Regions from separate parts of the Homo sapiens genome. Here region 1 is linked to region 2. The links come from fine-mapping of genetic effects on gene expression. Tissue or cell type: whole blood. Region 2 holds a variant in brackets; the other region holds the start of a gene. All regions are shown on one strand. Distances are from middle to middle.

Region 1 (10,856 bases), 240 kb after region 2:
GTCGAGATCATGCCATTGCACTCCAGCCAAGGTGACAGAGCGAGACTCCGTCTCAAAAAAAAAAAAAAAAAAAGTATTCCTTTTCTTTCCACATTTCTTTAGAGAAACAGGGTAAGGGCTAAAGAAGAGTACAACTGAAATATGTAACCAGATTCAGAACCCCTGCAACACAAAGAGAGATTAACAGTTACTGAACCTTGTGGTACACACATTGAGGAGCGCATAGTTCCTGCTCTAGCACAGGGGTTGGCAAACCTTTCCTTTTCTCTATAGGGCCAAATCTGCCACTGTAGCACAGCATACATAACATGTAAATGAATGGGGGTGACCTTATTTGGCTCACAGGCCTTAGTTTGTGACCCCTGATTTAGAGAATTGATGATAAGAATAGCATGGGATCCTGTAATAAGACAACCTAACCTGGTTTTGAGGAAGTGACTTTAAACAAAGACCTTAAGAGTAAGGAGGAATTAGTTCAGCAGAGGAGCTGGCTTCTTTGGAGATGGTTTGGGGAGTGATGTCAGAGACGTGTGCTTCTAGCACAACACGTGTACTGTGGCAGGTACAGAGAAGGCCCAGGAGAGGAAGAATGGTTCATAAGGGTTGGAGAAGTCATAAGGATCTAGGCACTGGGAAGCCATTGCAGGGTTTTAAATGTAGAACTGAACTTAATCTACTTGCTAATCCAACAAAAACTTATTATTTTCTGAGATGGGGTCCTGCTCTGTCACCCAGACTGGAGTGCAGTGGTGTGATTACATCTCACTGCAGCCTCCACCTCCTGGGCTCAAGCCATAATCTCACCTCAGCCTCCCAGGTAGCTAGGACAAATACATATACATATACATATACGTTTTTTTGAGACAGAGTCTCGCTCCATTGCCCAGGCTTGGAGTGTAGTGGCACGATCTCAGCTCACTGCAACCTCCGCCTCCCAGGTTCAAGCAATTCTCCTGCCTCAGCCTCCCAAGTAGCTGGGATTACAGGCACCCACCACCACGTCCAGCTAATTTTTTCTTTGTATCTTTAACAGAGACGGGGTTTCACCATGTTGGCCAGCCTGGGCTCGAGCTCCTGACCTCAGGTGATCCGCCTGCCTCAGCCTCCCAAAGTGTTGGGATTATAGGCGTGAACCACCATGCCTGGCATAAATATGTATTTAATGAGTGCCTACCACATGCCAGGCACGTACAAGACTAGGTCCATGCCCCTAGGATGCCCGTATTCTGGTGCAGGAGACATATTGGCAACAAATAAAATAAACCTTGCTCTAAAAGCGAAGAAGGAAATGCATATTCTCATCTCATCTAAAGTGAGTTTACTTAGGCTGAGATGTCAATAGGTAGGATATGACCTGTAGAAGTAGGAGGAGAGGTTCCAGTAGAGAAAGTGGGCAAGAACATGGTATATAATAGGTGATGTCCTGAGGCTGATGGCACTAGAGCATGGTGAAGGCAGCAGCCTATGAGGGAGAGGTATGCTCAAGCAGGGCGTAAAGGCCATGGAAAGTCACTGGAGAGTTTTAAGTAGGGAAATGACATGATCTGCCCTGATCCAATTCTGTTACATGGAAAATGAACTGGAGGAAGATCTGAGTGGAAACCAGGGAAAACTGAAGATACTGTTGTGGTAGCCCAGGCAAAAGATGGTGGTGGCTTGGAATAAGGTGGTAAAAGTGAAGATGGAGAATAGAAGACAGATTACAAAAACATTCTGCAAGTGGAAGTGACAAGACTTACTGAAAGACTGGGGAAGAGGAGTAGTAAAGGAGAAGAACAAAGATGATTCTCAGAGGTCTATCTTTGGTAACCCTGCGGATAGGAGCACCACTCAGTGAAACGGGAGGATAAGGTTTGCAATGATGAGAAAACCAAAACTTTCTTTTGGTTATGTTAGCTTTGGGTGCCTAAGAAATATCCAAATGGAGATAATTAAACAGGCATTTTTGACGCGTGATTCTGCAACATAGAGGAGAGGGCTGGACTAGAGATTTAAACTTTGGAGTTGCCAACTTTCAGGTGGTAATTAAAGCCATGGGGCTGGGTTACCTAAAGGGAAGCATGTAGAAGGCTCGGGATTCCTGTGAGAATTCCAACATATGTAGATATACATATATTTTGAGACGGAGTTTTGTTCTGTTGCCCATGCTGGAGTGCAGTGGCATGATCTCTGCTCACTGCACCTCTGCCTCCCTGGTTCAAGTGATTCTCCTGCCTCAGCCTCCCAAGTAGCTGGGATTACAGGCGTGTCGCCACGCCCGGCTAGTTTTTGTATTTTTAGTAGAGATGGGGTTTCACCATGCTGGCCAGGCTGGTTGTGAACTCCTGACCTCAAGTGATCTGCCCACCTCGACCTCCCAAAGTGCTGGGATTATAGGCATGAGCCACTGCGACCAGCCCCAGCATTTAGACATTAGATAGAGAGCAAAAGTTGCTAGCAAATGAGACTCAGAAGGAACAGCCGGAGAAATGGAGAAAATCCAAGAGTGAAATGTCAATAAAGCCAAGATGAAAGTTTGGAGGCAGGAGTAACTATGTTGAATATTGCAGAGACAGAGGAATATGAGAACAAAGTATCCATTGGATTTGGCAACATAGAAGTCACTGGTGACCTTGATAAGAGCAACTTCAATGGAGTGGGCAAAGTAGATGTGGTGGCACTTGATTACTAGAAGCTGCCTCAGGAGGACTGCTTGAGCTCAGGAGTTCCAGGTGGCAGTGAGCTATGATGGGGCCACTGCACTCCAACCTGGGCAACAGAGCAAGACCCTGTCTCCACAAAAAAAAAAAAAAAAATGGAGTGGGCAGAAGAGAAGCCAGATTGGTATAAAATGAAGAGTGAATGAAAGTTGAGAAAGCTGAGTTGGTACAGGTAGAAATCTATGAATGGAAATTTAAAAAATTGGCATGGTAATTGGAGAGGGATGTGAAGGATACCAGAACATAATTTGTATGCTGATGGGAACAGTTTCAGGGAGAGACAGGATTTGGTGACTGATTTTATTGGGAAATAGTGGACAGGAAGGAAGACAAGGATTACAGGCAGGACTGATGGTAGTGCCATTTATTAAGGTCAAGAATATAGAATCAGGGCAAACGTATTTGCCTACAAAGATCATGTTTCCACCACACTAGGTAGGCTTTCAGAGGAAGAACTGTAAAATTTGACTAAGCCTCTCCAGACGGTACCACTTTCTGATGTAATTAATCTCCTGATGAAGTTAAAACCTCCTAGAGTTGCAAGGCTATGCTAATCCAATCTAGCAGCCACACAAGCCAAGTGAATAAAAATGTACTTGTACTGGTGAAAGGGACATTACTCGTAAAAAAGGGCTCTAAATTCACAGCTGATGGAAGAGCAGTTATGTTTCTGTAATCAAAACACTGAAGACTTACAAACTGGTAACTTCCAGATAAACAGTGGAACCAGACATTTTTCCGAAGAAATTAATCAAATTCAATATTGTTTACACTCCCTAATGCTCATTAATGATGTAGCTTCATACACCCTTGTTACTTTTGATATTACAGTGAATTTCCACGGAAGTATTTTCAGAGATCTTAGCCCTCTGAAATAAGTATCAGTTCTTGCAACAACCCAGGAAAATTAACTTCTCCAGCTGGTTCAAAGGAGTGCCTGAGGAGAAAGGTAGAAACTAGAAGATGGAGTTTTGACTTAATAACTAATTTTGATGTTCATGATAGGCCTCTGGCAAACGTTTGAGGAAATGAATCTATAGAGAATGGACGGGCTTTAGGACTTCTACAAGACCTTCGATCTTTAGAAAGGGATGAAGGATGCAACCATCTACAAAAAGTTCTATTTGTATTATTCAGCAATATGTAAAGAGCTGGAATTTGGCATCGCCCTCTAGCCTGATGGCCGAGCTGCTGAAAGCTCCACAGGATTCATATCCCCAGAACAAACAACTCGATCACCTGATCCTGGCTCAGAAGCCCCAGGTCCCTTCCATCCCCAATCCTTTTGCGTGGCCCAGTTTTAAAAACCTGCGGAGAGAAGGACGGGATGCCAGGAAGCCTGTTGATTCAACGTGCCACCCGATTCACGGGTTCCGGGTGTCACTGGGCTGGGAAAAGCTTTCGGACTCTGAGCAACTACAGCGCTTTCCTCCCCCTTCCCCCCATAGAGCAGGGAAGGCCAGGCTCCCCCTTCTTCCCGCATACGGCTCCCCACTGCCTCTTCCCTTACGTGACCAGGCCCTAGGAGCCCGGTTCCCCACCTGACTCCTGCGAGAAACACGCTCTCCAGTCGGAACTTTACCTGTCTGAAGCCCGCCGCTCCTCCAGTGCGCTAAGCCCCCACCGAGGAAAATGGAGTCGTCGAACCGAGACTGGGAAAAGATAGTACGGACCCACCGCACGGCCCCTCCGCCGCCACCGCCGCCGCTGCTGCGTCAACGTGCTACGTCATTTCCGGCTCCCTGTCACCGGGAGTGGGCGGGCCATTTCTTGTTCTCTCTCCCGCTCTCGGAAGCTTTCGTCTCGTGGGTGCGAAAGGTAACCGAAGCGGCTCAGGAAGGCAGCTGTCACTGAGCCCCTGGAACAGAGCGAGAGTATCGTAAGTAACCAGGCTCAGCCGGTTTCTCAGGCCGCTCTAGTCAAATAAACCATAAAGATCAGACTCGGGCTTCTTCACTTCCTTCTCTCCGTGGTTTCGCCATTAGCTTCCGGTTCCGGGGAGGGGCCGAGTTTTCTTCGAAGATTTGGGGCTCCGCGATACAGTTAGGATGGCTGTAGTACCTCTGCTGTTGTTGGGGGGTTTGTGGAGCGCTGTGGGAGCGTCCAGCCTGGGTGTCGTTACTTGCGGCTCCGTGGTGAAGCTACTCAATACGCGCCACAACGTCCGACTGCACTCACACGACGTGCGCTATGGGTCAGGTAATGCTGGGGACCGGGCTCGGGTGGGCTAGGGAGGACTCGGAGGCTCTGGAGGGGCGGGGCCTATAGAATATCTGACAGTGTGGTCTGGGAAAGTTAGGGGTTCCCTGGGAAGGTTCCTCAGGTCTAGAGAGTCGGAGAACTGAATTGTTCTAAGGCATCTTAATCGCAACACCACCTAATATTTGGTGAGCTACAGGCCAGGCACGTTACCTATGTCCTTTTTCCGATTATTAACATTGTTGTAAGGTGGACAGTATTGTTATCCTCATTTCACAGATGAGGAAACAGACGCAGAGAAATTAAATCGTTTATTCAAAGCCTTGCAGTTAGCAAATGACAAAGTCGGGGTTCTATCCAAATCTATCCAGGTTCAAAGCCTGCTTTAGAGACAAGAAAATTACAGTAAGTGCTGTGTCTGAAATTTTAAAGTTACAGTAAGTACTGTCTGTGAAACTTTAAACTCCAAGAGCTCACTCGTTGACTACAACCCTTTGTCTTCCAGCTCTTCTGCATCTTACACTTGCTCCTCAGTTTCCATCTTTGGCCCCCTTCTACCCAAACCTTAACCTCCTTCTTGTAAGAAACTTGGAGCAGTGACAGGAATTGCAGAGAAAACTGCTTTTTTTTTTTTTTTTTTTTAGCGTTTGAAATTAAAATGTTTAGTAATAAATTATTTGTGGATTCATTCAGCATAGGTCTTAATGAGTTCCTACTACATGGCTAGAATTGTACTACATACAGGAGATTCGGTGGTGATAATCAGTCAAGAAAATTACAATATAATAAAAACAGACTAAAAAAAGAAAGTCTTATCTGCCTGAAAAAAAAAGATAAAGTTAAAAAAAAAGAATGAAGGTCAGCTAGTGAGATGTGAGAGGCATCTAAGATAGCTGGTAGATTTTTGTCTTGAATGACTGATGATGCTGTTTGCTGAGGGAGGAAAGAGTTCTGTCAGGTGGGCTAGTCTGGTTCATGATTCCCAAAACCCATCTGATCAGTCAGACTAGGCAAGGACATGAGTTATCATCACTGCGATGTCTTAATAATTCTAGCACCCATTCAGTGAACACCTACCATGTTGTCAGGCTTATTTTTTACTTTGTTTTGGTTTCCTACTTTGGATCTACTGAATTAGAGTGGAGGTGGACAGAGGCTTGGCAGTAGCAATCTGTAGGTTTAAAAAGCTCTTCAGGTGGTTCTGATGGACAGCCAGATTTGGGAACCAGGTTCAGTCCGGAGCTCAGAAAAGGGATCTGTGCTGAGCCTGAGATACAACATTAAATATAACATCTTGTACAGACTGTGGTTGAAGATGTCAGGGTTGTAGATGAAATTGCCCAGAATGAACTGTGATTCTCTATCTGGGATTAATTTGAATAACTGGAGAAACTTGTTAAAAATACAAATGCTTTTGTCCTGACCCTCAACAATTGTTTAAGAACTACAGGTAGCCCTCTCCGTCTCCCTCTCTTGTCTCTTCTCTCTTTCCACGGTCTCCCTCTGTTGCCGAGGCTGGACTGTACTGCCGTGATCTCGGCTCGCTGCAACCTCCCTGCCTGGGGCTCCCGTGATTCTCCTGCCACGGCCTGCCGAGTGCCTGGGATTGCAGGCACACGCCGCCATGCCTGACTGGTTTTCGTATTTTTGGTGGAGACGGGGTTTCGCCGTGTTGGCTGGGCTGGTCTCCAGCTCCTGACCTCGAGTGATCTGCCTGCCTCAGCCTCCCGAGGTGCTGGGATTGCAGATGGAGTCTTGCTCACTCAGTGCTCAGTGTTGCCCAGGCTGGAGTGCAGTGGTGTGATCTTGGCTCACTACAACTTCCACCTCCCAGCCGCCTGCCTTGGCCTCCCAAAGTGCTAAGAGTACAGCCTCTGCCCGGCCGCCACCCCGTCTAGGAAGTGAGGAGCGTCTCTGCCTGGCCGCCCATCGTCTGGGATGTGAGGAGCGCCTCTGCCTGGCCGCCCCGTCTGGGATATGAGGAGGGCCTCTGCCCGGCCGCCACCCCGTCTGGGAAGTGAGGAGCACCTCTGCCCGGCCATCACCCTGTCTGGGATGTGAGGAGCGTCTCTGCCTGGCCGCCCTGTCTAGGAAGTGAGGAGCGCCTCTGCCTGGCCGCCCCGTCTGGGAAGTGAGGAGCGCCTCTGCCCGGCCGCGCCATCTGGGATGTGAGGAGTGCCTTTGCCCGGCTGCCACCCCATCTGGGAAGTGGGCTGCCCATTATCTGGGAGGTGAGGAGCACCTCTGCCCGGCCACCCCATCTGGGAAGTGGGGAGCACCTGGCCGCCCTGTCTGGGATGTGAGGAGCGCCTCTGCCCGGCCGCCACCCCATCTGGGAAGTGGGGAGCGCCTCTGCCCGGCTGCCCCGTCTGGGAAGTGGGGAGCGCCTCTGCCCGGCCGCCCTGTCTGGGAAGTGGGGAGCGCCTCTGCCCGGCTGCCCCGTCTGGGAAGTGGGGAGCGCCTCTGCCCAGCCGCCCCGTCTGGGAAGTGGGGAGCGCCTCTGCCTGGCCGCCACCCCGTCTGGGATGTGAGGAGCGCCTCTGCCCGGCCGCCACCCTGTCTGGGAAGTGAGGAGCGCCTCTGCCCGGCCGCCCATTGTCTGGGATGTGAGGAGCGCCTCTGCCCGGCCGCCCTTCGTCTGGGAGTTGAGGAGCACCTCTGCCTGGCTGTCCCATCTAGGAAGTGAGGAGCGCCTCTGCACGGCCGCCCCGTCTGGGAGGGGAGGAGCGCCTCTGTCCGGCCTCCCATCGTCTGGGATGTGAGGAGCGCCTCTGCCCGGCCACCCAGTCTGTTAAGTGAGGAGCTCCTCTGCCCGGCCACCCTGTCTGGGAAGTGAGGAGTGCCTCTGCCCGGCCGCCCCGTCTGGGAAGTGAGGAGCGCCTCTGCCTGGCCGCTGTGCAGTCTTCCAAGTGTGAAGTGACAGCCTTTCTGCAGGTGTACCCAACAGCACCGAAGAGACAGCGACCATCGAGAATGGGCCATGATGACGATGGCGGTTTTGTCGAAAAGAAAAGGGGGAAATGTGGGGAAAAGAAAGAGAGATCAGATTGTTACTGTGTCTGTGTAGAAAGAAGTAGACATAGGAGACTCCATTTTGTTCTGTACTAAGAAAAATTCTTCAGCTTTGGGATGCTGTTAATCTATAACCTTACCCCCAACCCCGTGCTCTCTGAAACGTGTGCTGTGTCAACTCAGGGTTAAATGGATTAAGGGTGGTGCAAGATGTGCTTTGTTAAACAGATACTTGAAGGCAGCATGCTCGTTAAGAGTCATCACCACTCCCTAATCTCAAGTACCCAGGGACACAAACACTGCGGAAGGCCGCAGGGACCTCTGCCTAGGAAAACCAGAGACCTTTGTTCACATGTTTATCTGCTGACCTTCTCTCCACTATTATCCTGTGACCCTGCCACATCCCCCTCTCCGAGAAACACCCAAGAATGAACAATAAATACTAAAAAAAAAAAAAAAAACTACAGGTAGAAACAGATGAAGGCCAGGCATAGAACTTTGGATAATCCCAAGGTATAAGGATTTGGAGGAAGAAGTGAACGGTTGAATAGAAAGCAGAAAATGTAGGAGACAAAATGTAGACCATGGTTTAGTGAAGCGTGGCTGTGAGGACCCAGAGAGCTGTAAGGCAGTAACCAGAAGTAGGAAGGGAGACTTGGTTTGCCTTTTCTGAAAAAAGATATAATAAAGTCATGAAAGGAGCTGATAGTTGGCTACATTTACCCGTGTAACTGGCAGTGACACAATTACGACTCATTGCAGCCTTGACCTCCTGGGCTCAAGCAATCCTCACATCTCAGCGTCCTGAGTAGCTGGGACTACAAGTGCACCCCACCACACCTGATTAATTTTTTGCATCTTTTGTAGAGATGGAGTTTTGTCAGTTGCTTAGGCTTGGTCTTGAATTCCTGGGCTCAAGCGATCTGCCCACCTTGACCTCCCAAAGTGCTGGGATTGACGGTGAGCCACTGTGCCCAGCTTCTTTTTTTTCTTTTAAATATAAAAATTTTTTTTTAGGCTGGGTGTGGTGGCTCACATCTGTAATCCTAGCACTTTGGGAGGCTGAGGCAGTTGGATTGCTTGAGCCCAGGAATTCGAGAGTAGCCTGGGCAACATGGCAAAAACCCATCTCTACAAAAAATAGAAAAATTAGCCAGGTGTGGTGGCAGGCGCCTGAAATCCCAGCTACTTGGGAGGCTGAGGTAGGAGGATCACCCGAGCCTGGGAGGTCAAGGCTGTGGCGAGCTGTGATCGTGCCACTGCACTCCAGCCTGAGTGACAAGAGGGATCCTGTATCAAAAAAAAAAAATACATATATATATATGTACGTTTAGAGACTGCATTTTGCTATGTTGCTGAGGCTAGTCTCGAACTCCTGGACTCAAGGGATCCTCCCCTCACCTTCCCAAAGCGCTTGGATTACAGGCATGAGCCACTGTGCCAGACCTCCAAGGATACATTTTTTGTTTTGTTTTTGTTTTTGTTTTGAGACAGAGTCTTGCCCTGCCACCTAGGCTGGAGTGCGGTGGTGTGATCTCGGCTCACTGCAACCTCCGCCTCCCGGATGCAAGCAATTCTTCTGCCTCAGCCTCCCAAGTAGCTGGGATTACAGGCACATGCGACCACGCCCAGCTAATTTTTATATTTTTAGTAGAGACGGGGTTTCACCATATTGGCCAGGCTGGTCTCGAACTCATGACTTTGTGTTCTGCCTGCCTCAGCCTCCCAAAGTGCTGGGATTACAGGCGTGAGCCACCGTGCCTTGCTTAAATAATACGTTTATAATAATTGACCACTTATGGGAGTTGGGAGCTGTAATGGCTGCTTAAAGTTGGCAACATAGTCTCATTTTAATTGTGAAATACAAAAATTTTTATCATAATAGTTAATGAACATGAATAATATTACAAACATGTTAAAATTATGTGATTAGACACATTAGGGGCTATCCAGGCTAGTGTGTATAGGTTACCACTGCCTGTGCCTCAAAAAACTCACATAGATTTGTGCCTTGGATATCCTTTGATGCAAATTCTTAGAATTTTCTGATATGACATACCCTTAAGTATACTTTATCATATAGTAACTAGTATTACGTGGACACAGTTTATTTATTTATTTTTTTTGAGACGGAGTCTGGCTCTGTCATCCAGGCTGGAGGGCAGTGGCGCGATCTTGGCTCATTGCAACCTCCACCTCCCGGGTTCAAGCGATTCTCCCACCTCAGCCTCCCAGATAGCTGGGATTACAGGCTGCCACCACCACACCCAGCTAATTTTTGTATTTTTAGTAAAGATGGGTTTTTGCCATGTTGCCCAGGCTGGTCTTGAATTCCTGGGCTCAAGCAATCCAACTGCCTCAGCCTCCCAAAAAGTGCTAGGATTACAGGTGTGAGCCACCACACCCAGCCTAAAAAATTTTTTTTTTATTTAAAAGAAGAAAAAGGCTGGGCACAGTGGCTCACCATCAATCCCAGCACTTTGGGAGGTCAAGTTTCACTCCCAGAGTGCTGGGATTACAAGCGTGAGCCACCACGCCCAGTATGATTTGTATTTTTTATAAATATTTTAATGTTGTAGAAGAAAAAATATTGCCAAGCATAGCATTTTTCTCCCCACCCCTTCTTACCTGTTTAATGACACGGCACAATATTGGCCATAGGCAAGAAGGGTGAGGCTGAGCTCACTTGCTGTTTTTTTTTTTGAGGAATGGGTACCAAATTTATTTGTTAATTTCTTGCATTTGAAGTACACAGTCACATCCTTGGCCTGAAATTCTTTGCTGTAGCCCTTCACTGTGACACAACTGCAACCAACCACTTTACAAAGTTTTCCTTGTCTATCAGTTTTACAAAGGCTTAGCCATGTCTCTGGTTTCTTAAGGTCATCAACCTTAATTGGGTTGATTTGGTGTTCGGCACAAAGGGCCACCCCTAGCTTGACATAC
Region 2 (10,856 bases):
CTCAGACCTATTGAATCAGAATCTGCATTTCAACAAGATCTGTAGGCGATTCTTATGCACATTAAAGTTTGAGAAACACTGGTCCATGCCGTCTGTTTTTCCATATTCTCCCTATAGTACCAGCTGGAATATCCCGGATTAGCCAGCCAGGAGCCCAGGAACTTACACAGTACTGTCATCTCTGACTTCTCTGACCATCTTCAAAGATGGTCCTCTGTACCCTGTGTTGGAAATGCTGTGGGTGGGGAGAGAAAGCCTTACCCTGCCGCAGCTCAGTGTTGGATGTGAGTTTGGAAAGATGAGTCATCCAGCGGGATTTTCTCCAGGCCATGAGCCAAAGGTCCAGATTTTGTTGGTTTATGTTTGGATCACAGGATCTGAGTTTCTGAATGATCCTATTCCTATGTTTGTCTTGTAGTGCAAAGAAAGGAGGTACAGGCCCGAGCTGTGTTCTACCCCCTCTTAGGGTTGGGAGGAGCTGTGAACATGTGCTATCGAACCCTCTACATCGGGACAGGTGAGCCAGCCAGGAAGCTGGGAGAGACACTGAATCTGTTCAGCCCTAAAGACTGACACCCTTACCCACAGAAGTTAGAAAGGGGTGAGGGAAGCCCTTTCCAGAGTTGACTGCTTTAAATCAGTGGATAGCTAGACAAGAGAAACTAAGAATAGAGACAATCAGCCAGTCACGGTGGCTCACGCCTATAATCCCAACACTTTGGGAGGACAAGGCAGGAGGAACACTTGAGCCCAGGACTTCGAGACCAGCCTGGGCAACATGGTGAAACCCTATCTCTACCAAAAACAAATATAAAAAATTAGCTGGGCTAACATGCCTATAGTCCCAGCTACTTGGGAGGCTGAGGTGGGAAGATCACCTGAGGCTGGGAGGTCCAGGCAGTGATCCTTTTTGTGCCTCTGCACTCCAGCCCAGGCAACAGAGTGAGACCCTGTCTCAAAAATAAAAGAGACAATCAGTTCCTTGTCTTCCCTTGTTCAGGCCCTTTTGCTTTGTCTTTGCCCAGTGTTGCAACAGCAGAGATGAAAGTCAGCTCTGACTACTGCCCAGGGAGGCACTTTAAACACTGCAGGGAAGAACCTAAGGAGAAGGCAGATGCTTTGTCCCTGGTGGTCTTTGAAAGAGTGATAGACTCACACATACCCAATCTTCAGTTAGCCCTGTATCTGTTTTTTGTTTTGTTTTGTTTTCCCTAAAAGTCCTAGAGACCGATAGCTCTGTATCTGGTACAGAAGGACAGACAGATTAGCCCTTACCCTAGAAACTTCCCTTTCTTTAAGGTGATAAGATTTTCTAGGCTCTGCACCCCGATGTTGTATTTTCATAGAAATATCCCATCCTCTTCAGTAGCTCACTCTTCCCTTCTGGGTAGCAGCCACATGTTCTAAAGCAGATCAGCTGGCAGGGACAGCTGTTCTTTATCAGGAGCTTGGAAAAGACAACAGTTTTTGTTCAAAAATAAAAGGGGAGGGCCCTGAGCTACTCACCCTTGAAGTCTCTGCTAGTGCCAACCCAGAAGCTAACTCTCTCCCTGTCTTACCTCCCCGACACATGCACCTTACAATCTGTTCTCTGCCTTCCTTTTCCTCTACTCCTGCCACCTTGCAGGAGCTGACATGGATGTGTGCCTTACAAACTATGGTCACTGTAACTACGTGTCCGGGAAACATGCCTGCATATTCTACGATGAGGTGAGGGCCGGAGATGCGGTGGGAGGGAGCTTTCCCAACCTGAGGCCTCTCCCAGGCAGTAGGTTTTTGTTCAGTGCCCTGAGGGGAGGGAAGAGGGATTGGGGGTCCTCTCTTTTTCTTCCCTCCCTGTCATTCCTGGAGGAGGAGAGTCTTGATGTGAAATAGCATCCTACCTGGGAAGCTACCTGCTTCCCAGGAGCAGGGCTACCATTTTTCCTGAGGTTAGTCACAGGCACAACAGAGGGAGCCTACCCTAAAGCAAGGGAGGGGACCAGCATAGAAGGAAGCCAAGCCTTGTGGGTGTGTCCCTGTGAATTTCATTATCATCACGGGCCAGTGAGTATCATACCAAGAGGAGCGGTGCTGAGAGGGCAGAGTGAAGGAGTGGGAGAGTAGGGAGTGTGGGACACCAGAAGGAAAGCTTCCCTGAGGAGGTGTCTCCAGCCCCCTTCTGAAAGGACAGGGGCCATGACTGGGGAGGCAAGTAAGGACTCTCTAGGTAGAGTAGCACGGCCTTCTCCATATGTCCTCTCTCCCCTTAGCCCCAGGCCCCACACAGCAGACCACACATCTTATCTCCCCTCCTCCTCCTCAGAATACCAAACATTATGAGCTGTTAAACTACAGTGAGCATGGGACAACGGTGGACAATGTGCTGTATTCATGTGACTTCTCGGAGAAGACCCCGCCAACCCCCCCAAGCAGTATTGTTGCCAAAGTGCAGAGTGTCATCAGTAAGTTGGAGCAGAGATCTGTGGCCACAAAGCTGAGGCCCCAGTCAGGGTGGTTCTGACTTGCTGCCCATGGTCTGTCTCTTGCCTTCCCAGTCCTATTGGCCAAGCTCTACTTCCTCGTGGGCCCAGGGCAGGCCACAGAGAAGCAAGTGCTGAGTACCCCCATGTGTGTACACACCTGTGGGGACTTCAGACTCCACCAACCCTTTCTGAGCATCCTTCCTCCCTAGTCATGCAGCAGTTGGAATGGGGAGATGCAGGAGCCCAACCTTGGCAAACAGCCCACATGGGTTGGCTGCTCACTGTTCCTCTTCTGTGACCATCCCCCTTTTTCCCAGGGCGCCGCCGGCACCAGAAACAGGACGAAGAGCCAAGTGAGGAGGCAGCCATGATGAGTTCCCAGGCCCAGGGGCCGCAGCGGAGACCCTGCAATTGCAAAGCCAGCAGCTCGAGCTTGATTGGGGGCAGTGGGGCCGGCTGGGAGGGCACAGCCTTACTGCACCATGGCAGCTACATCAAGCTGGGCTGCCTGCAGTTTGTCTTCAGCATCACTGAGTTTGCGACCAAACAGCCCAAAGGCGATGCCAGCCTGCTGCAGGATGGGGTCTTGGCCGAGAAGCTCTCTCTCAAGCCCCACCAGGGCCCTGTGCTGCGCTCCAACTCTGTTCCTTAGGACTGGCGGCTACCCCGCCACTGGCCTGTACACCCACCCAAGACTCCTGCAATGCAAAAATGTACACAAACCAAGCCCGGGTGTTTTCTATACTCTACCAGAAACCCTTCAACTACAATCTTTGCATGAAATGAAGAAAACCTTTTGACTGTTTTTTAAAAATCCTTTTTCTTTTCTCAAGTTCTAGGGGGCATTTGCACATATATTTGTACTCAACATTTCATGGGAAAGCGGCAGACCTGAGCTGAGGAACAGCGTGGGCAGGGAGGGAAAGACCCAGGGTCTGGACACTTCCTCCAACACAAAACCCTTCCCCACCCACCTCCTGCTCCCTCCCCCTCGCCCACCATTGTAAAATAATCAGAAACTTGTTCTATTTTGTGGCAGTGACAATAGTTTTATATTAAAAGAAAAAATACAGTTTTCATACAGCAAAATCTATACAATATCATTGTTTTATTTAATATAAAGATCGCTACCCACCTTCCTTCCATGGTTCCCACCCTCCACGTTATTTTCCCTTTCTGCAGCGGTTGCACTACAGGTAGCTACTGTGTATTATGGACAAATGAGAAATGAATTCTTTTTCTGGCTGTCCATCTATTTTATTTCAAATAAGGAAAAGTGTATTTGGATTTTGTGTAAATACATCTAGTGATGACATTTTTTCAATGTTTTTAAAAACCGTGTACAGTACTACATGTGGTAGAGCGTTTTCTCAAATTGTCTATTGTAGCAAAAATGTTTTTGTCGTAAACCTGTTTTGTCTCCTTTTTTTGTTCTCTTGCCACTTCTCTCCTCTTCCTCCTGCCCCTGGTTCCCTCCTCTCCTCCCACCCCCACAACCAGTACCAATGTACATAGTAATTGTAATGTTTTAGACTTTACAGAAACTTTCCTGTATTCTGTATATAAAAAACAAAAATACTTCAAATTGTTTTCTGACTGTCTGTCCTACCTGTCATCACCCTTAGAGGAGACCCTCCCCTAGATCTGGGTCTAGCAGGTGGGGGGCCTTTTGAACAGGTCTCATTCCCATAGGGAAGTTTGGTAGGGGAGGTGTTGGAGAAAAGTGAGCCAGGGTGGGTGGATGACAATGGAATGACATGGGTGCGTCTGCTGGCCCGGGGGGAGCTGTTTCTCCAGAGAACCCTGACTGATAGTGGAATCTAGTCTTGACCTGTCACTTCTAGTCATGTGATCTGCAGTCACACTTCTCTACAACTGCTATTCCTCATCAAAAAACGAGTCTGCTGCATTACCTTAATTCTCAAGTCCCGGGGACCTTCATTAAACCAAATTCCATGCTTTCCTCCCAGATCTTAGTGAAAAACTCTCCAGGAAGTTTTCCTGAGGTCAGCCTCCTCAGATGGAGAGCACCTCTGTGTATATTCCAGCACTGTTTGTGTAGGTGCATCTGCTTGTGTGTCAGGATTTTGCCTTAGGGATAGAAAATGAATATTCTACCCCCAGCCTCATCCCACAGCATCTACAATGGAAACCCGAATCCGCAGTGCAGCTAAATAGGAAACTGGCCCTGGAATCTGAGGTCTGTCCCTGACTTTCATCTGCCCATGCAGGCGTCATCACTCTGCTCCCGGTGCCCTAATGGGCTTTTTGAACTCCCTAAGGACAGAAACTTGTATATCTTCCACTCGGAATTTCCAAGTCTAACTACACTGCTGGGCACACCATAAGTGCCAAATACCAGGTTCTAAATTGTACTGAATGTATCAGGCAACGGCCTTCTGCCCTGGAATGGTCTTACCCATTTGTTCCTAGCCAGCCCCACCCTTCCTGCCATCATGGTCACTTGTAATTGAGTGATGGAGCTTCTCTGCCTGTCTCTTATCACCTATGAGAACCATTCCAAAGGCAAATTTCCTCCTGAAAGGCAATAACAGATTTTACTCTCTATCTCTTCCTGCTTCCCTTCAGCCATGGAAGGCACTAGTGGGGTTGAGGTAGGGAGATACAGAGGGGGAATGAAGGAGTGAATTCTGACACCCCTTAACTGCCTGTGCCACCTTTAACAGTGTCCTCTCTAGCCTGTGTGGGGAGAACACGGAAGAATCCTAGAAGCTGGGGGCTGGATGTGAAGATAAGAAAACGAAGGATTTGGCCCAGTGCAGAGGCTCACACCTGTAATCCCAGCACTTTGAGAGGCTGAGGCAGGTGGGTCACTTAAGGTCAGAAGTTTGAGACCAACCTGGCCAACATAGTGAAAACCCTTCTCTACTAAAATACAAAAATTAGCCGGGTGTGGTGTCACACACCTGTGATCCCAGCTACTCTGGATTCTGAGGCAGGAGAATTGCTTGAACCCGGGAAGCGGAGGTTGCAGTGAGCCGGGATCACGCCACTGCACTCCAGCCTGGGCAACGAGAGTGAAACTCCGTCTCAAAAGAAAGAAAGAAAGGAAAGAAGGAAGGAAGGGAGGGAGGGAAGGAAGGAAGGAAGGAAGGGAGGAAGGAAGGAAGGGAAGGAAGGAAGGAAGGAAGGAAGGAAGGAAAGGAAAGGAAGGAAAGGAGAAGGATTTGTGCAGAAGGGAAGGAAGGAGAAGGATTTGTTCTTAGAGGGAAAAGCATCTAGGACTAGACTCAAAGACACACGTGTATTCATGTACACACCTAACTTCAGAAGGGAGGGACTGTGCTACAT[A/C]CACCTCGAGTAAACATATGGAGATATGCAAGCACATGCACTGGCAGAGACTACAGATGCAGGCACATACCTGGAGGGACTCTGCCAGAATGCACACAAACACCTACAAGGTGCTTACAGGAGCTCACACACAGGATCCAGAGGCACGCACACAACCCAAAGGGTGATCCTCAGGGACATGGGCACATACACACCTAGAGATCATTCACATACAAGCGTTGCAGATGCATGCACATACCTAGCGTGCACTCACAGGGTGTACGTGGACACACACACCCAGGAGTTCACACAGGCACACACCTAGGGGGCGCTCCCAGGGCCCAAGCGCACACACTCACCTCAAAGGTGTCCACAGAGGCACACGCCCCCAGGACGCCGACGCACGCCTAGGGGGCGCTCGCAGGGCCGGCGCGCACCCGCACGCGCACACGCCCCTGCCCAGCCTCCTGCCCGCCTCCGCCTTCGGAGGCTGACGCGCCCGGGCGCCGTTCCAGGCCTGTGCAGGGCGGATCGGCAGCCGCCTGGCGGCGATCCAGGGCGGTGCGGGGCCTGGGCGGGAGCCGGGAGGCGCGGCCGGCATGGAGGCGCTGCTGCTGGGCGCGGGGTTGCTGCTGGGCGCTTACGTGCTTGTCTACTACAACCTGGTGAAGGCCCCGCCGTGCGGCGGCATGGGCAACCTGCGGGGCCGCACGGCCGTGGTCACGGGTGAGTGCGGAGGCGGGTGAGTGCGAGCTGGCGGGGCGCGCGGAGAGGAGGCCGGGCCGGCGGTAGCAGCGGCCCGCCGGGCTCAGCTCAGCTCGGCTCCCGCCCGCGGTCCGCAGGCGCCAACAGCGGCATCGGAAAGATGACGGCGCTGGAGCTGGCGCGCCGGGGAGCGCGCGTGGTGCTGGCCTGCCGCAGCCAGGAGCGCGGGGAGGCGGCTGCCTTCGACCTCCGCCAGGTGAGAGGCAGCGGGGGCGCGTGGGACGGTGAGCCGAGAACCCGCCGGGACACAGAGAAGCCAGCAAAGGGGCTGCGGAGGATCCGGGTCCAGGGAGGAGAGCGCGGCGCGGGCGGCTGAGCGCGAAGAGGGAGTGCACGGAGCGCTGGGGTCACCCGAGGAAGGCGCACCAGAGCCGAGTGGGGGAGGGGCTTCCTGAAGGCCGTAATTGCAGTTCTGAGACGTTTAAGCATCAGTAGAAGTTGGGTTAATGATCAGTAGGAAAGGGAACAGCAGAGGGCACAGCATAAGCAAAGGCTCTGAGGCAAAGAGAGCTGGACTGATCTGAAAAACTGAGAAAAAGATTTAATGAGGCTGGAGCACAAAGTATGAGGAAGATGGGCAAATGAGGGGGCTGGAGAACATTCTAGAGCCTATTGAGAAGCTTGGATTTTATAGATTGGGCAGCAGAGACCAGTGGAGACCATGAACAGCCCTCAGTAGGCTCCGGACTGTCAGAATAGCCTTTGGAAGGAACTCCTTTGTGGCTGCGTGGTGCCTGGAGTGGGGGGGCAAGAGCGGGAGAGAGGAGACCAGTGAGAAGTTACAGATTTTAGGGTAAATGGTAATGGGGAAAGGAGGTGATAATAATAATAGCAAGTACCTACCCAGTGCTGCTAGAGTGTATTTTACACGTTAACTCCTTTCATCCTCACAAAAGCTCAGTGAGATTGGGACTGTTGTTATTATTATTCCCTTTACGCAGTGAGAGAACTGAGACCCAGAGAGATTAAGTATCTTGCCCAAGGTCACACTTTAGTAAAAGGCAAAGTCAGGATTTGAATCCACACACTTATCTAGTACACTCTAAGACACAGGGGCAGATTTTAGTAAACAGTAGGAGATGGACTCTCAGAATTTGGTGCCTGGGGAGAGGGAAGAGGAGAGAGATGCCTGGTGACAAGCCCAGCCCTTGCCTCTCCACAGGAGAGTGGGAACAATGAGGTCATCTTCATGGCCTTGGACTTGGCCAGTCTGGCCTCGGTGCGGGCCTTTGCCACTGCCTTTCTGAGCTCTGAGCCACGGTTGGACATCCTCATCCACAATGCCGGTGAGGGGCAGCAGGCCCTGCGTGGGGGTGGGGTGGCGGGTGGCCAGGGGCAACTGCCCCCTCCAGCGGGGGCCCTGCTGGGGCCAGTGGACACATGGGAAGGATGCCCCCTTCTCCCATCTCATAGATAGGGATGCCAAGGCTGCAGAGCTCCTTCTGGAGCAGCCGCTCACATTTAGCCTCTGCCCCAGGTATCAGTTCCTGTGGCCGGACCCGTGAGGCGTTTAACCTGCTGCTTCGGGTGAACCATATCGGTCCCTTTCTGCTGACACATCTGCTGCTGCCTTGCCTGAAGGCATGTGCCCCTAGCCGCGTGGTGGTGGTAGCCTCAGCTGCCCACTGTCGGGGACGTCTTGACTTCAAACGCCTGGACCGCCCAGTGGTGGGCTGGCGGCAGGAGCTGCGGGCATATGCTGACACTAAGCTGGCTAATGTACTGTTTGCCCGGGAGCTCGCCAACCAGCTTGAGGCCACTGGCGTCACCTGCTATGCAGCCCACCCAGGTGAGGTCTGGTTCTTTGGCTTCCGATTCCCCTCTCCTTTCCTTGCCCCATCCTGTGCCCCCCACACCACTACCGCCTCCCCACCCTCCATCCCTCATTGAGTCACAGAATCTCAGGGCAGCAAGGAAGCATAGTCCAAGGAGAGACCTGTTCCTTGCTGCTCTTGGAACCAGGTTCTCCTGGTTTAGGTTCTTCCTCTCACACCACAAGCCTGGGTCCTCAGCCCTGGGGGGTATATGGCCATGAATAAGACCTGGATTCCCACCCCCAGGAGCCATCTGCACTGACTGAACTGATAATGATGATGATGATAGCTAATAATTCATCCAAGAAGCATTTACCGAGTACCTACTCTGTATCAGGCATTACTTGCAGTGCTGGGGATATAGCAGTGAACAAAACAAAGACCCTGCCCTCATAGAGTTTGCATTCTAGTTTGGAGGAGAGGGAGACAGCCAATAAATATATACGATGAGGGGTGGTGATAGAGTGCTCTGAGGAAAAAGGAAACAGCAAGGGGCAAATGGAACGGGAATATGGTGTGGCAGTCAAGGAAGACATATCTATAAAGGTGACATTTGAACAGAGGTCTGAAAGATACATGGCTCACTGGGGAGATGCCCAGAAAAAGAGAGAACAGTGCAAATAATAAGTGCAGAGGGGCTGGAAGCGGTGGCTCATGCCTGTAATCCCAGCACTTTGGGAGGCCAAGGCTGGTAGATCACTTGAGGTCAGGAGTTCGAGACCAACCTGGGCAACATGGTGAAACCCCATCTCTAGGCTGGGCGTGGTGGCTCACACCTGTAATCCCAGCATTTTGGGAGGCCGAGGCGGGCAATCACAAGGTCAGGAGTTCGAGACCAGCCTGACCAACATGGTGAAACCCCATCTGTACTAAAAATACAAAAATTAGCCAGGTGTGGTGGCGCGCGCCTGTAATCCCAGCTACTCAGGAGGCTGAGGCAGGAGAATCGCTTTAATCCGGGAGGTGGAGGTTGCAGTGAGCCGTGATCACGCCACCGCACTCCAGCCTGGGGGACAGAGCAAGACTCCATCTCAAAAAAAAAGAAAAAAGAAAAAAAAAAGAAAACCTGTCTCTACTACAAATACAAAAATTAGCTAGGCATTGTGGCTATCACCTGTAGTCCCAGCTATTCAGGAGGCTGAGGCAGGAGAATCGCCTGAACCTAGAGGTGGACGTTGCCAGTAAGCTGAGATCTCGCCACTGTACTCCAGCCTGGGTGACAGAGCGAGACTCTGTCTCCAAAACAGAAAAAAGTAAGTGCAGAGGCCCTAAGGCAGAAGTTCCTGGTGTGCTTGAGAAAGGCTAATGTGGCTGGAACAGAGTGAGGGGGGAGAGTGGCAAGAGGTGAGGTCATAGAGAGGCACTGTGTCCTGTAGGGTTTGGAGGGAGGTTCACTATAGGCATTCTGGCTTTTACTCTGAGTGAGATAATTGGGGATCCAGAGCAACACTTTGTCTTATGGAAGAGGTTATACCAGGATAACAAGATCTGTCATATTCATATTACCATACTGCATTTTAGATAGTCACTGCCTAAGGCTCATTAGTAATTATAATAGCGATGATCACAATTAGCCTTTATTAAGTCTTTATTACACTCCATATCACTAATGTCCAAAATAGTGGCTGGTATACTGCAAGTACTTAATAAATGCTGGTTAAACAAGGAACAGGACTTGAGCTAGAAGAAAAGATGGAGAGAGACTGAGAATTGTTTCAGACATGGGACACAGCATGAACAAAATCTGGGATGTGGGGTGAACAAGCAGTCTGGATGGAAGCGAAGAGGCTTCATGCAGGAAATGAGTGAAGTCACCTCGCAGAAGCCCCGAATGCCTGGTAAATACTATCCTGGTTCCCTTGAAACCAGATTCTGTCCCTGTTCTTCTAGCTCTGTTCTATTTTTTTTGTTGTTGTTTTTTTTTTTAAAGAGACAGAGCTTGACTATGTTGCCCAGTCTGGTCTCAAACTCCTGGGCTCAAGTGATCCTCCTGCTCCGCCTCCCGAGTAGCTGTGACTGTAAATACACACCACTGTGCCTAGCCCGACTCCTTTCTTTCTTCCTGCCTACAGGGCCTGTGAACTCGGAGCTGTTCCTGCGCCATGTTCCTGGATGGCTGCGCCCACTTTTGCGCCCATTGGCTTGGCTGGTGCTCCGGGCACCAAGAGGGGGTGCCCAGACACCCCTGTATTGTGCTCTACAAGAGGGCATCGAGCCCCTCAGTGGGAGATATTTTGCCAACTGCCATGTGGAAGAGGTGCCTCCAGCTGCCCGAGACGACCGGGCAGCCCATCGGCTATGGGAGGCCAGCAAGAGGCTGGCAGGGCTTGGGCCTGGGGAGGATGCTGAACCCGATGAAGACCCCCAGTCTGAGGACTCAGAGGCCCCATCTTCTCTAAGCACCCCCCACCCTGAGGAGCCCACAGTTTCTCAACCTTACCCCAGCCCTCAGAGCTCACCAGATTTGTCTAAGATGACGCACCGAATTCAGGCTAAAGTTGAGCCTGAGATCCAGCTCTCC

Evidence for each region. PIP is the estimated chance that this variant, and not a neighbour inherited with it, causes the effect.
Region 1: it holds the start of SUPT6H, and the variant in region 2 is fine-mapped to the expression of SUPT6H in whole blood (TOPMed, PIP above 0.99).

Annotation. Positions count from the first base shown.
Region 1 is chr17:28,655,768-28,666,623 of GRCh38, reverse strand. It overlaps SUPT6H (SPT6 homolog, histone chaperone and transcription elongation factor), which reads right to left and starts at 4,419. Exons shown (of 37, transcript NM_003170.5): 1 at 4,282-4,419. It overlaps SDF2 (stromal cell derived factor 2), which reads left to right and starts at 4,718. Exons shown (of 3, transcript NM_006923.4): 1 at 4,718-4,898. The coding sequence starts at 4,748. It also overlaps the pseudogene RPS12P28. RefSeq lists enhancers at 3,629-4,303, 4,401-4,470, 3,832-5,031.
Region 2 is chr17:28,898,444-28,909,299 of GRCh38, reverse strand. It overlaps DHRS13 (dehydrogenase/reductase 13), which reads left to right and starts at 6,221. Exons shown (of 5, transcript NM_144683.4): 1 at 6,221-6,482; 2 at 6,599-6,717; 3 at 7,684-7,807; 4 at 7,999-8,310; 5 at 10,408-10,856. The coding sequence starts at 6,356. It overlaps PHF12 (PHD finger protein 12), which reads left to right. Exons shown (of 15, transcript NM_001033561.2): 12 at 419-517; 13 at 1,628-1,710; 14 at 2,306-2,444; 15 at 2,783-4,050. The coding sequence ends at 3,117. RefSeq lists silencers at 275-569, 5,999-6,628, 7,130-7,322 and an enhancer at 2,954-3,454. The variant A/C (reference allele first, on the strand shown) is at 5,778.